Linked DNA regions of Homo sapiens: region 2 is linked to region 1. The links come from fine-mapping of genetic effects on gene expression. A gene starts in region 1. The other region holds a variant in brackets. All regions are shown on one strand. Distances are from middle to middle. Region 1 holds the start of ZNF664 (zinc finger protein 664). Region 2 overlaps CCDC92 (coiled-coil domain containing 92).

Region 1 (5,368 bases):
AAATACATGTACAACTTACAACTCTAAGGAAATAAGCTTAAATATTATAGTGCGAGTATTGTCTAGTGTTCAGTTTGCTAATATGTTTATTCACAGTCAACTAATTTATATGCCTTATTTTTTAAGGTATGTAAAACCACTAGGGGCTGGGCACAGTGGCTCACACCTGTAATCCCAACACTTTGGGAGGACTGCTTTAGGCCAGGAGTTTGAGACCAGTTGGGGCAAGATAGTAAGAGCCTGTCATTACAAAAATAAAATAAATCAGCCAGGTGTGGTGGCACATGGTTGTAGTCATTCCTAACTACTGGGGAGGCTGAGGCACAAGGATCACTTGAGCCCAGGAGTCCCAGGCTGCAGTGAACTAGAATCATGCCACTACACTCCAGCCACGGCAACAGAAAGAGACCCTATCTCTCTCTCTTTTTTTTTTTTTTTAATGAAGAGGAAGAAAAGAAAGCCCTAGGAAAAAATGCTTTGCAAAATATTGTTAAGAAGACTAATGTATTGTCAGTACTTGATAAAAATTAATTTAAAAAGTCACAAATTAAAAAGCATTCAAAGTTGACTATCTGTAGTGCTCTGTGATATGATACACACACATCTGGTCAAAAAATATAAATGATATTGCAAATAATTTTTGGATCACAAAGGCTAATAAAACCAACCTTTATATATACTACTTTACATTCCACAACACATACGCACTGTATCACTGAACTCTATGGAGCAGACAGAGCAGGCCATTTACAGAAAAGAAAACCGAGGTTTGGTGTGATTCAATGTCCTCCCCAAGGTCACACAACTTCTAACTGCTAGAGTCAGAACTACCATAGGGGAGGGGTGGCTGCTTCCACATATCAATTTCTTAACCAAAAGAGAACTTCATCATAAATGCCGAATCTCGATAATTAGCGTAGATCTGTGCTCCTATCACCGAAATTTCATCTCATCAGAGAACCACCACCAGCAAAAAAGCTGTTTTAAAGTTAAAACTTAAACTGCTATCAATTTGGGAAATGGCTAAACCATGATATACTGAAACTATGGAACATGGTGCAGCAGTTGTTAAAAAATGACTTGAAGCATTACATGCTAACATTGAAAGTTACGGTGCAACAGTCCTTGTTAAAGCAGTCAAAAATGATGTTAAGTGCACACACGTAAAAGTACTCCAAAAGATCTAGAAGGATAAACACCACACACATAATAGTCGGCATCCCTGAAGACAGAGGTTGATAGTCAAAGACAAAATGCCATCTCTGTGATATGCTGTTTTTACAAAGAAAATGTACTACTCTGCTAATTTAGAATTAATTTTTAAATTTTTAATTAACCTGCGGGTTGAACAAGGTCAATTTCCTGCTCTAAAAAACTATGCGTCTATGAAGGAAATAGGAGCCCTCTCTAAATAAGAAGCCAAAATGCCTAAAAACCGTTCCAGCCTGTGAAAACAATAAACTGTAAATATCAGAAAACGTTCCTTGAAGAAGGCAATAGCTCAGAAATCTTTTTTCGGTATCTGGTCTCCTTTGTTGCAATAAGACAGCCCGTAAGCAATCTAGCAACCAGAACAGTTCAGTTCGGAGCAGGCTCCCGGGGAGATTTAGTTGTTAGAGTTCGGCAAGAAAGGTTTCACAAAGGAGCTGAGTTCTGGGGGAAATGAGAGGTGATGTGGCGGAGAGATGGATCCGGACGGGAAAATGTCTGGGAGGGGGTATACGGAGTTCATGAGAAGCCGGGGACAGTGAGAAAACTGCAGTCGAGTCCTGGAAGGGGTGAGAACGCCTGCGGAGGCGGGAGTCAGAGGGAAGTGGACAGCGCCGGCAGCCGGTTTACCTGGGTGAGAATCCGGCCCTTGTTGTGGTCAAACAATGGAGGCGTCCGGCGGCAGCAGCCTTCTGCGCTGGGTGCGCGAGGGGTTCCTCATCACCTGAGCGGGATGCTCGCCTCCTCTGCCGGACGCAGGGCGCCCTGAAAAACACACAGCACCCCATGCAGCCGGCTCCTCCGCAGCCGCCCGGCTCCCCGGTCCCCTGGCGCGGCCATGACCGCCTCTCCCGGGACCCGCCTGGAAGGGCTCCAAGACGCGGCTCCACGGGCGACGAGGGCGGCAGCGCTCCCCCTTCCCTCGGCTCCAACAACAATGGAGCCTGGCTCGGGAGTCCGGCTCCCGAGGGGCCTCGCCCGGCCTCGCCCTGCCCGCTGCCCAGCCCTCGCTCGCACCGGCCGCCATCTGCGCCCCCCGGCCCCGCTCCCCCGCACTGCGGGCCCGCGGCCGACCGCCCGAGGCCCGAGGGGCGGCTTCTCAGCCCGGGACCCGCCAGGCTGCGCGGAGCCGCTCTGACCTTCCCCGCCATCCCGAGGCCCATCCTCCGGGATGGGTTGTTTTTCTTTTCTTTAAGCCACTCCACCTCCTTCCCACCCCCAGCCCGCTCCCTGGCCCCCGGCCCCCGCCTCCCTCCGGGAAAGAAAGAAAGACTGCAGCCCGGCCGCCGAGAACTCACTCCAAGTGAGGGGAGTCAGCGCCCCAGGCCGCGGGCGCCGCGCACCCACCTCCCTCTCCTCAGGGACACCTCACAGGTGCGCCTCCGAGCCGCGCGCGCGCGCGCTCCGCACACCCAGACGCCTCCGGGGGACAGCGCGCGTGCGCACGCACGAGGCCGGGGAAGCCCCGGGGGAGCGGGGGCCGCACGCATGCGCGGCCACCCGGCCCGCGCCCCCACCGCCCGCCTCCGCCCCCGCCCCCCAGCCCCGGCCCGGTCGGGCCCGGCCATCCCCCACCCCAGCGCCCGGCGCGCGCGCTCCCGCTCGCCTCCCTCGCTCCTCCCCGCGCCCCCCCCTCCCTCGGGCCGCGTTACCCAGGGCAACCGCAGTGCGGCCGCACCTGAGCTGTGCGCCTGCGTCCCGCGGGCCCGACCCTCCCTTCCCCTCGGCCTTCGCCCCTGCCCCGCCACAGCCGGGCGGAAGGGGGCGTAGCCCCGCCTCGCCAAGTGAATATCGGCCCGCCGCCCCCGCCCAGCCCGGCAGACACAGGCCCGCCGCCGCGCCGGCGCCTAGCCCGCCGGGTCAGCGCGGCCAGGCCTCGCCGCCGGCCCCGCTCCCAGGGTGCACCGCGGCTAGCGCTGGGGTGGGAGCGGGCGAGATGCGCCGGGCGGGCGGTGCCCACTGACCTCCCTCGGCGGCCCGGCCCGGGCAGCGCCCGAGCCCAGGCAGCCCCGCCCGCCGCGCCCCGCCCAGCCCATGGGCCACGGGCCCCCACCGCCGCCCGCCGGGAGGACCGAGCCTAAGAGGGCAGCCGCCTGAAGGAACGCGACGGCGGCGCCCGCAGGTGAGGCGGGGCCCGGGGTGTGTCGAGTCCGGCCCCGCTCACCTGGCAGCGCCGGCGGGGGCGGAGGGGCCGGGCAGGGGCGGAGGGGCCGGGCAGGGACGGGAGTTCGTGGCGAAGACTTTAAAAACCCTCCCCGCCGGGAGACGGGGGACGGGGTCCTCCTGCCCCACCTCCGGGGCTTGGGAGCCACGTTAGCTCCCCCAGGGGCAGGGGTGGCCCCGGGCGAAGGCAACTCGGGAGACGGCGGAGTCGGGGAAAGAGGGTCCCTGAGGCTCGGCGACCCCCGCGCCCGCCCCCGCGGGGTCTGCCGGCCCTTTCTGGGGAGGGGGCTCCCCGGCCCGGGCTCCAGTCCAGGGTGCGGACCGGCCGCGGCGCGCGCCCACCCCAGTGCCAAGGGGGAGGAGAGGCCGGTCCCGGGGCGCTCCTGTCTGCCCCGGGGTGGGATCGCAGGGCGAGGGATCCGCATTGCAGGTGCACCAGGAGCGCCCCGGGGCCTAGCCCGGCTTTGTCTGGGATGCTGTGGGGAGGAGGCCGTCTGAATCCACATCGCCTTTTTAAATGCTTGTTACCACCCGGGGAACCTTAGAGACCCTCCCTGACAAGTTGTATCGCCTCCCGTCCTGGTAGCCTTTCCGTAAGTACACTACCTTGCCAGCCCCTTCCTGAAGCTTTGATGCGGCTTTAGTTTACTCTGAGTAACGATTTGCCTGTGATTCGTGAAACGGAGCAGAATGCACAAACGCAGCAGAGCTCCAGGCTTGGCTACTGGGCTGCCGTCTGCTACGGCGAGTGAGTTTCTCTAACTTAGGTTTTCATGCTGACCTGTATTGTTTCATTTCAAGTTTTGGTATTTAGCAGTACGATCTAGTCCACTAAGGAAAATTAGGCTGCCAGAGAGAAAATATAACCGCGCTCTGTAGCTTAGGTTGCAGTAGTCGGTTTTATAACAAAATGCAAGCTACCACGCTGTAATACTTTAACATATTACGCAGTTCCAGAAACCTGTAAGAGTATTAAAACTAGGATTGCCATTTTAAAACTTTTACGTTTGAAATTTATTTAAAGAGCATTGGTATTGATAAAACGACTTTTCTTTTTTTTTTTTTTTGCTCATCAAGAATTCCCATGCATTTTCTCGCTATTGCATTGTAAGGAAAAAGATGCTAACGTTTAAAGTGGCTTTTACCTCCAAAGATGTTTTGAAATGTATGTAATTCTTTTGGCTAACTGTTCATCTTATGTGAAATATGCTTGGAAGAAGGCTTTAAAACTCGTGATTATATATACGGGTATGCGTACATATCCATACACACCACTGAAAAATCTTAAAATAGTTTTGTTACTCCTCTGCGTATTATAATTACTCAGTAAATTTAGTTTAGGTACATTTAAGATCTAAAGTACAGGACAATTATTTGTGTGAGATTTTTACTGTGACACATTTTAAATACATCGGTCTAACAAATAGGGTTTTTTTGAAATTAGATATTTTTATTAACTCTTTAAAAAACGAATCATTCATCTTGGGTTTATAACTCTTTCATCTGCCATGTTGGATAAATTGCAAAATTGGATAAATTGATCTCAACTTATCCAATTATCTTTGGATAAATTGATCTCAACATAATTACCTAATTGGTAGGATGCCTTTGCAACGATACTAACGTTAATAAAATGTTGATGCTTTTAAAAAATACTTATGTTAAAAAAGCATTTTCTCGTATTTCTGGCAAGAAAAGTCATGGAACTTTTTTCCTTCTATCTGGAACAAGGTCAGCCATAAATAGTTTCTAATACATAGTGGGCACACATTTGGTAACTAAGATTAATTATATCTACTGAATTTACTGAATTCCATGTCCTTCAAGGGCAGTGACTAGGTGACTTTGTATCTTCACACACCAATGTTGCAGTAAATGTTTGAGTCAGATTGAAGTTTCATCCCGGCTAGGTAGGTGCTAACTTAATGACACCAGTTTCCACATCTTCAGCTTTGATGTTTCAACCTGCAGAAGGATTTGGGCACGGAAGTGGCTG
Region 2 (5,368 bases), 31 kb after region 1:
ATGTCACTGGTCGTACAGATAATTGATGAGCAATTGGTGTCGTCTGAAGCAGTGACAGCCTGGGTGTGTCAGTGTCTCCAAAACGGTTCCACTGTGGCATCCTACAAATGGGCTGCGTCCTGGGAGCCATTGAGAAGTTGTACCTCCTTTACGGAGGGTTCTCTGGAATAGCAAATTAGGGAAAATGCATTCTGAGGTTCTGTATTTACAATAATAATTTATAAGCAAATAACTCACATTTCATCCTCAGTATTTTTCAGTGCTGTACAAGCGTCTTGAATTACTCTGGTAGCTTTTCCAGAAAGACCCATGACTTCACCACATTTCTCGAGTTACGATGAAGGTAGAGTCTGGGGCCCTGAGTGAGCATCAGATGCTGGAAGCTGGGGCTGGGAGGGGCCAAGCATTGGGGACAGACTCCAGACACCTGCACCACCCCCTGGCCCCATGAGATACGTTCTCAGACCTTCCCAAGAAGGATCTGTGGCTCCTCTCAGTGCTGTGAAGTGCAGGGGGCTTCCCTCTGGAATTCAGCCCATCTCTCCCTCCTACTTTGGCTGGCTCCAGATGCCATTTAGAGGAAATGTTTGGCCCATTTCCCAGGTGCCAGCTTTTCCCATGAGGAAGCTGTCAGTGCTTCCTGGTCAGGGAAATCTTTTGGGCGTGATTTGGTCAGTCACAGTCTGTTGGGGTGAGGTGGTGCGTGGAGAGGACAGGATTTGGAACCAAGGGTCCCTGGATTAGAATCCCTGCTCCATACCTCACTGGCTGTGTGACCCCAGGCTCGCGAATCTGCCTCTCTTGATCTGTTTCCTCATGAGTAAAGGGAAATGACTTTGTACTCTGGAGTGGGCCTCACTCATTCATGTGCCAGGCATCGTGCTAGGTGCTAGGGCACACCCCAAGGCGTTCGGGAAGCAGAGGCTGCCGTCCCTGGCCTGGGGCCTCCCTGCAGTGATGGGAATGTAGCCCTGGTGCCCCCACACCCTGCCCTTCAGGAGCCGTGGTTTCCTTCTGCTCTCTCCTGGGAGGCGCACACCCCTCTGCACCCAGAGCCAAGGAGGGCAGGCAGCCCTGGGACCCTCTTCAGGCACCGCAGCCAGGGTCTGTGTTACCCACAGGTCCTCTGGATGTCAGCATGGCAGCCACAAACCTGGAGAACCAGCTGCACAGCGCACAGAAGAACCTCCTGTTCCTTCAGCGGGAGCATGCCAGCACGCTCAAGGGGCTGCACTCCGAGATCAGGCGGCTGCAGCAGCACTGCACAGGTACATCGGGGAGCAGGCCCGGGCAGGCGGGGGGCGGCTATGGGGCACGGCAGAGCCCAGCGTCAGAATGTGCTAGGCCTGCCCTGCCCCCAGCTCCCATCATCGTTGCAGGAGTCCATCTGAATGCCTTATATCATCCTCATTGCATAATCAAGATGCACTAAGCATAAAGCTGCAAAGCCTTTTCTTGGCATACTGAGGACTTAAGAGATTAAAATACAATGGTTAGAATCTCCAATGTGTTTTGGAACTGATAACCAAGATATAGCCTGTGTGATACATAGAGCCAGCTGCTGGATTGTTTGGTTTGGATGGTTGGGATATGCTGTGGGGGAATGGGGAAGGGAGTTTGGGGGAACAGAGGGTGCCCTCTGACCCCAGGGAGCACAGTGGCCGCAGATGTTTTCTGCTGCTCTCATGCTCACCTCTCCTGCTGCCAAACCCTGCTCTGTCTGGGTAGGACTCGCTGGCTAATCGTGGGAATCGGTTTTGCATTTTCAAAGCTGATGAAGATTTTGAAATGTACAGTAAAAGAATTAATGTGTAACATTTCCCTTTTAGATTTAACATATGAGCTGACAGTCAAAAGTTCGGAACAGACAGGTAAGAACTCCTCCCCAGAAGTAAATGACAGTAGGTTTCCCTTTGTGGTACGTGTTGGTGCCGTTTTCACTAGTCACACACTTAGGAGAAAATGCTCTTGCTGGGAAGAGTTATGCGTGTGGCCTGAGCTCTCTAAGAGAAGATGAGAAGGATGTTTGGATCCCTCCGTGTTGCAAGTGGTTATTAGTGGGCAGGGGGATGAGTGATTTTGTTTTCTTTTGAATGACACATATATTTGGAATGCCTATTATATGTTTTTCTGATTTTCCTACAATGAACATGTGTTCCTTGTGTAATCAGGACATAAAAATAGACGTGAGTTAAACCCAAAAGGAGGAGTAACAGCAGCAGCAGCATTGGGCAGAACCGCCCCCGCTCCTCCGTGTCGCTGCCGCCTAGCATGGGCCTGGCACAGAGCAGCAGCTTGCTAAATGCTGGCGGGCGAGTGGTCACATTACTAGACAGCTCCCTGAGGATCTGGGGCTTTCTCTGGACTACAGCCCCAGAACCCTCCCCAAACCAGAATCCTCCAGGACCTCAGGAAACCCCAAAGGGCAGCTGCCTGCTGGCCGCCAGAGAAGAGACAGAAACCCAGGCCTTCCCAGGGCCCTCTGTGCCTGCTGCAAAGAGCCTGCTCCCTAAAACAGGGTGGGTGTTTGGAAAGTGCTGAATCCATGTTTGTGCAGAGACACCTGTTGGAAACGGGTTTATCACGTCGGGAAGGCAATGGATGGCTCAGCAAGGCTAGTTTACTTTCTGC[A/T]GAAAGGGTGCAACTCGCCAGCAGTCTTACCACGAGAGCACACTCAAACAAAGGAGACGAGGACATTTATAATCTTCATAACCTGATGCAATTGCCCTATGACTGTGTCCAGTTTCCATTGACTGGAATGGGACCTCACATTCTAAGCTTGACCCGATTGGCTAACAGCTTGAAACTTTCCTAAATAGGCAAAAGGGAAAGAGGACAAAGAAAAGAGGAAGCTAGTCATGAGAGGGTCAGGAGAGTTTCCAAATAAGGAAGAGCATGCACTATGGTCCAGGGCTCGCTCAGCCCTGCGCAGGCGTGCCGGGGCAAGGCGGAGCAGCTACACTGGAACATATATAGAGATATACATAGAGCAAGGAAATGACAAGCTCTTTATGGTTTCAAGAAACTTTGAAGAACTTCTCCATTCCCCACAATGCCTTTTTCTAAACAGGCCTCACAATGGCAGTTACTATTCATGAGAGTGTCCAGTTCCTTGTAAAAGACACAGACCATTTCCACCAAGCCTTAGTGGATTACCGAGCACTGATTTTTTTCCATTTGCATTGCTCATATTACAGCCTCCTGAGTGCGCCACCCAGGAGCCCAGACATCTTTTTGTCTGCGTGTGGTAGGGAAGGCGCCGTGGGCTTCTTGGGGTGGTGGAATGGGAGCCTGTCCTCAGAAGTCTCCCTGTGGAGGGATACCAGGGACCTCCCCCGAAGCCCTGGGACTGGGAGCTGGGCCTGTGGGAATGCAGAGGAACAGGATTTCAGCCTGACACTAGGGACCTCCAGCGTCCACACCTGCCAGCACTGAAGCCTTGGGAAAGGAGCTACCCGTGTCATGGAAGCCAGGGCGTCCTCGCTCCCTGTCCTCTCCTGGCCCAGGCTAATCTGAAGCAGCATAGTTTTGCCCTGTGGCCTCTCCAGTCACGGTTCTCAACCTGAGGTCCCAAGGCCACCTGCCCACCCACCCACCCACCTGATGTAGTACTCCCAGCAGCAGCAGGGTCTCACAGCAAGGGCTGTGTCTTAGGGGAGGCAGTTTCAAAAGCCTCTCAGGTGGTTCCAGTCGGGGCGTCTCCCCTCCCAGTGGTGAAAATCATTGTTTTACATTAGTGCACCCAAAACTGCCCAATTCCAAGCAGTTTCGGGACCCAGGGTACAGCATAGACTCTTGGCTTCCCTCCCCTGGGGGCTGTGACCCCAGAAGTCTGGGCGGGCCCAGGGAGTGCGCAGGTTTAGAAGCGTTGCAGTGCCCTGACGCTCGGGCAGGCTCAGCAGTGCAGCGTTTGGAGACCAGCAGCAGTTGGCTGCTGTCAGCTCAGTGTGCACCAAGCTTTCATGGGAAGACTGAAATTTCCAGAAAGGGGGTACGTACAGAGGAGGAGGTGGAGTGGAGCTTTCTATAAAGAGCAAGAAATTGGCAAAACAGGAGGTGCTGATTCCTGGGAAGGACAGTCACTGAAGCAGCTCTCCAGAGCTGGGGATGGAGGAGCAGTCGTACCAGCTCCTTCCCACAGGACGGCCCACTCAAGTCGGGGCCGGTAAACATCAGCCCGGAGCCAAGGCTGCACCCTGGAGGAGGAGGCAGCACAGCTAGATGACTCTCAAGGAAGGATGATGAGGAGGATGTCTATCCAGGAGGAGCTTCTCTCAGGATGCTGTGGCGAAAAGAACCAGAGTGATGCTTAATGAGCCCCAGATTTGGGCCTCTGCTCTGACTCGGAGGGGCTGTGTGGCCTTGGGCAGGTTCTTTGACATCTCTGAACCTGCATCTTCATCTGACAGGTGCCCCACAAATCCAAGTCCCCAGTCCGACCACCAGGGCCCTCTGCCTTTGTGGGCTGCCCCTCACAGGACATGAGCAAAGCCCAGGGACAGCCTTGTTCCTGAATGTTCCAAACGTCCATCAGCCTTTTGCAGCACTGCCTGGGGGAAGAAAAATCCCAGGATGCTCACAGCAGGCCAGGGATGTGGTTGAAGGTCTGAGGTTGCAGCCCTTCCTCGGAAGGAGCCCAAGGCCCACTGTCCACCCGAGTGTGGGCTGAAAGCAAAGGCCCTGCGACAGGCATGGGTTGTTGTCCCACAGGCCCTGGGGGAAGGACAGCGGGTACCAGGCCCAATGCCGTGCCCAGGTCAGCATTTCAGGTTGCAGGGGTTCAGCCCAGGTGGCTGGGCTCCTGGGTCTTACAGTGTCTACAGAGTCGTGTGTGTGTCTCTGTCCCTCTCTCTACCTCTGAAACTGTGTTTTAGGATCTATTTTCCTTTTGGCAAAAGAAGAAACCTCATGAAAGGTAGTACTGCATGCATCCTTTTTAGGGAGGTCATTTGCTGACATTATACCTGCACATACACACACAGACACATGGTTTTTAAAACTAGAAACTTGCAATGGTTCAACTTAAAATTTTTCAACTGCATGGGGCAATACCCATTCAGTACACTCCTCGACTTACCATGGATATGTCCAGATAAACCCATGGTAAGCTGAAAATATCGAAAACACACTTTTGACTTACGGTATTTTCAACTTACATTGGATTTTTCGGGACATGACCCCATGCTAAGTCGAGGAGCGCCCATCACCTGCAGCGAGCTTGTAACATGCAAGTGTCCTGCACAAGACCAGTCCAGTCAGCTGTGGGCCCTCAAAAGCTCAGAGTCTGGCGGCGGGACATGCTGCAGAGCTGCTGCTAGCTCAGGCAGGTGGGAAAATTCAAAGCAAGACAGACAGAAGCCCGGGAAAG

Evidence for each region. PIP is the estimated chance that this variant, and not a neighbour inherited with it, causes the effect.
Region 2: its variant is fine-mapped to the expression of ZNF664 in whole blood (TOPMed, PIP 0.99).

What each region holds. Positions count from the first base shown.
Region 1 is chr12:123,970,492-123,975,859 of GRCh38, reverse strand. It overlaps ZNF664 (zinc finger protein 664), which reads right to left and starts at 2,645. Exons shown (of 5, transcript NM_152437.3): 1 at 2,508-2,645; 2 at 1,840-1,974. It overlaps CCDC92 (coiled-coil domain containing 92), which reads left to right and starts at 3,029. Exons shown (of 5, transcript NM_025140.3): 1 at 3,029-3,331. ZNF664-RFLNA (ZNF664-RFLNA readthrough) reads right to left here and starts at 2,645. Exons shown (of 5, transcript NM_001347902.2): 1 at 2,557-2,645; 2 at 1,840-1,974. RefSeq lists silencers at 2,077-2,306, 2,417-2,496, 2,567-3,436, 3,467-3,586 and enhancers at 2,807-3,544, 3,545-4,282.
Region 2 is chr12:123,939,247-123,944,614 of GRCh38, reverse strand. CCDC92 (coiled-coil domain containing 92) reads left to right here. Exons shown (of 5, transcript NM_025140.3): 2 at 251-343; 3 at 1,122-1,268; 4 at 1,830-1,871. The coding sequence starts at 310. Among named protein-coding and RNA genes, the nearest start is that of DNAH10OS, 6.9 kb to the right of the region's middle. The variant A/T (reference allele first, on the strand shown) is at 2,632.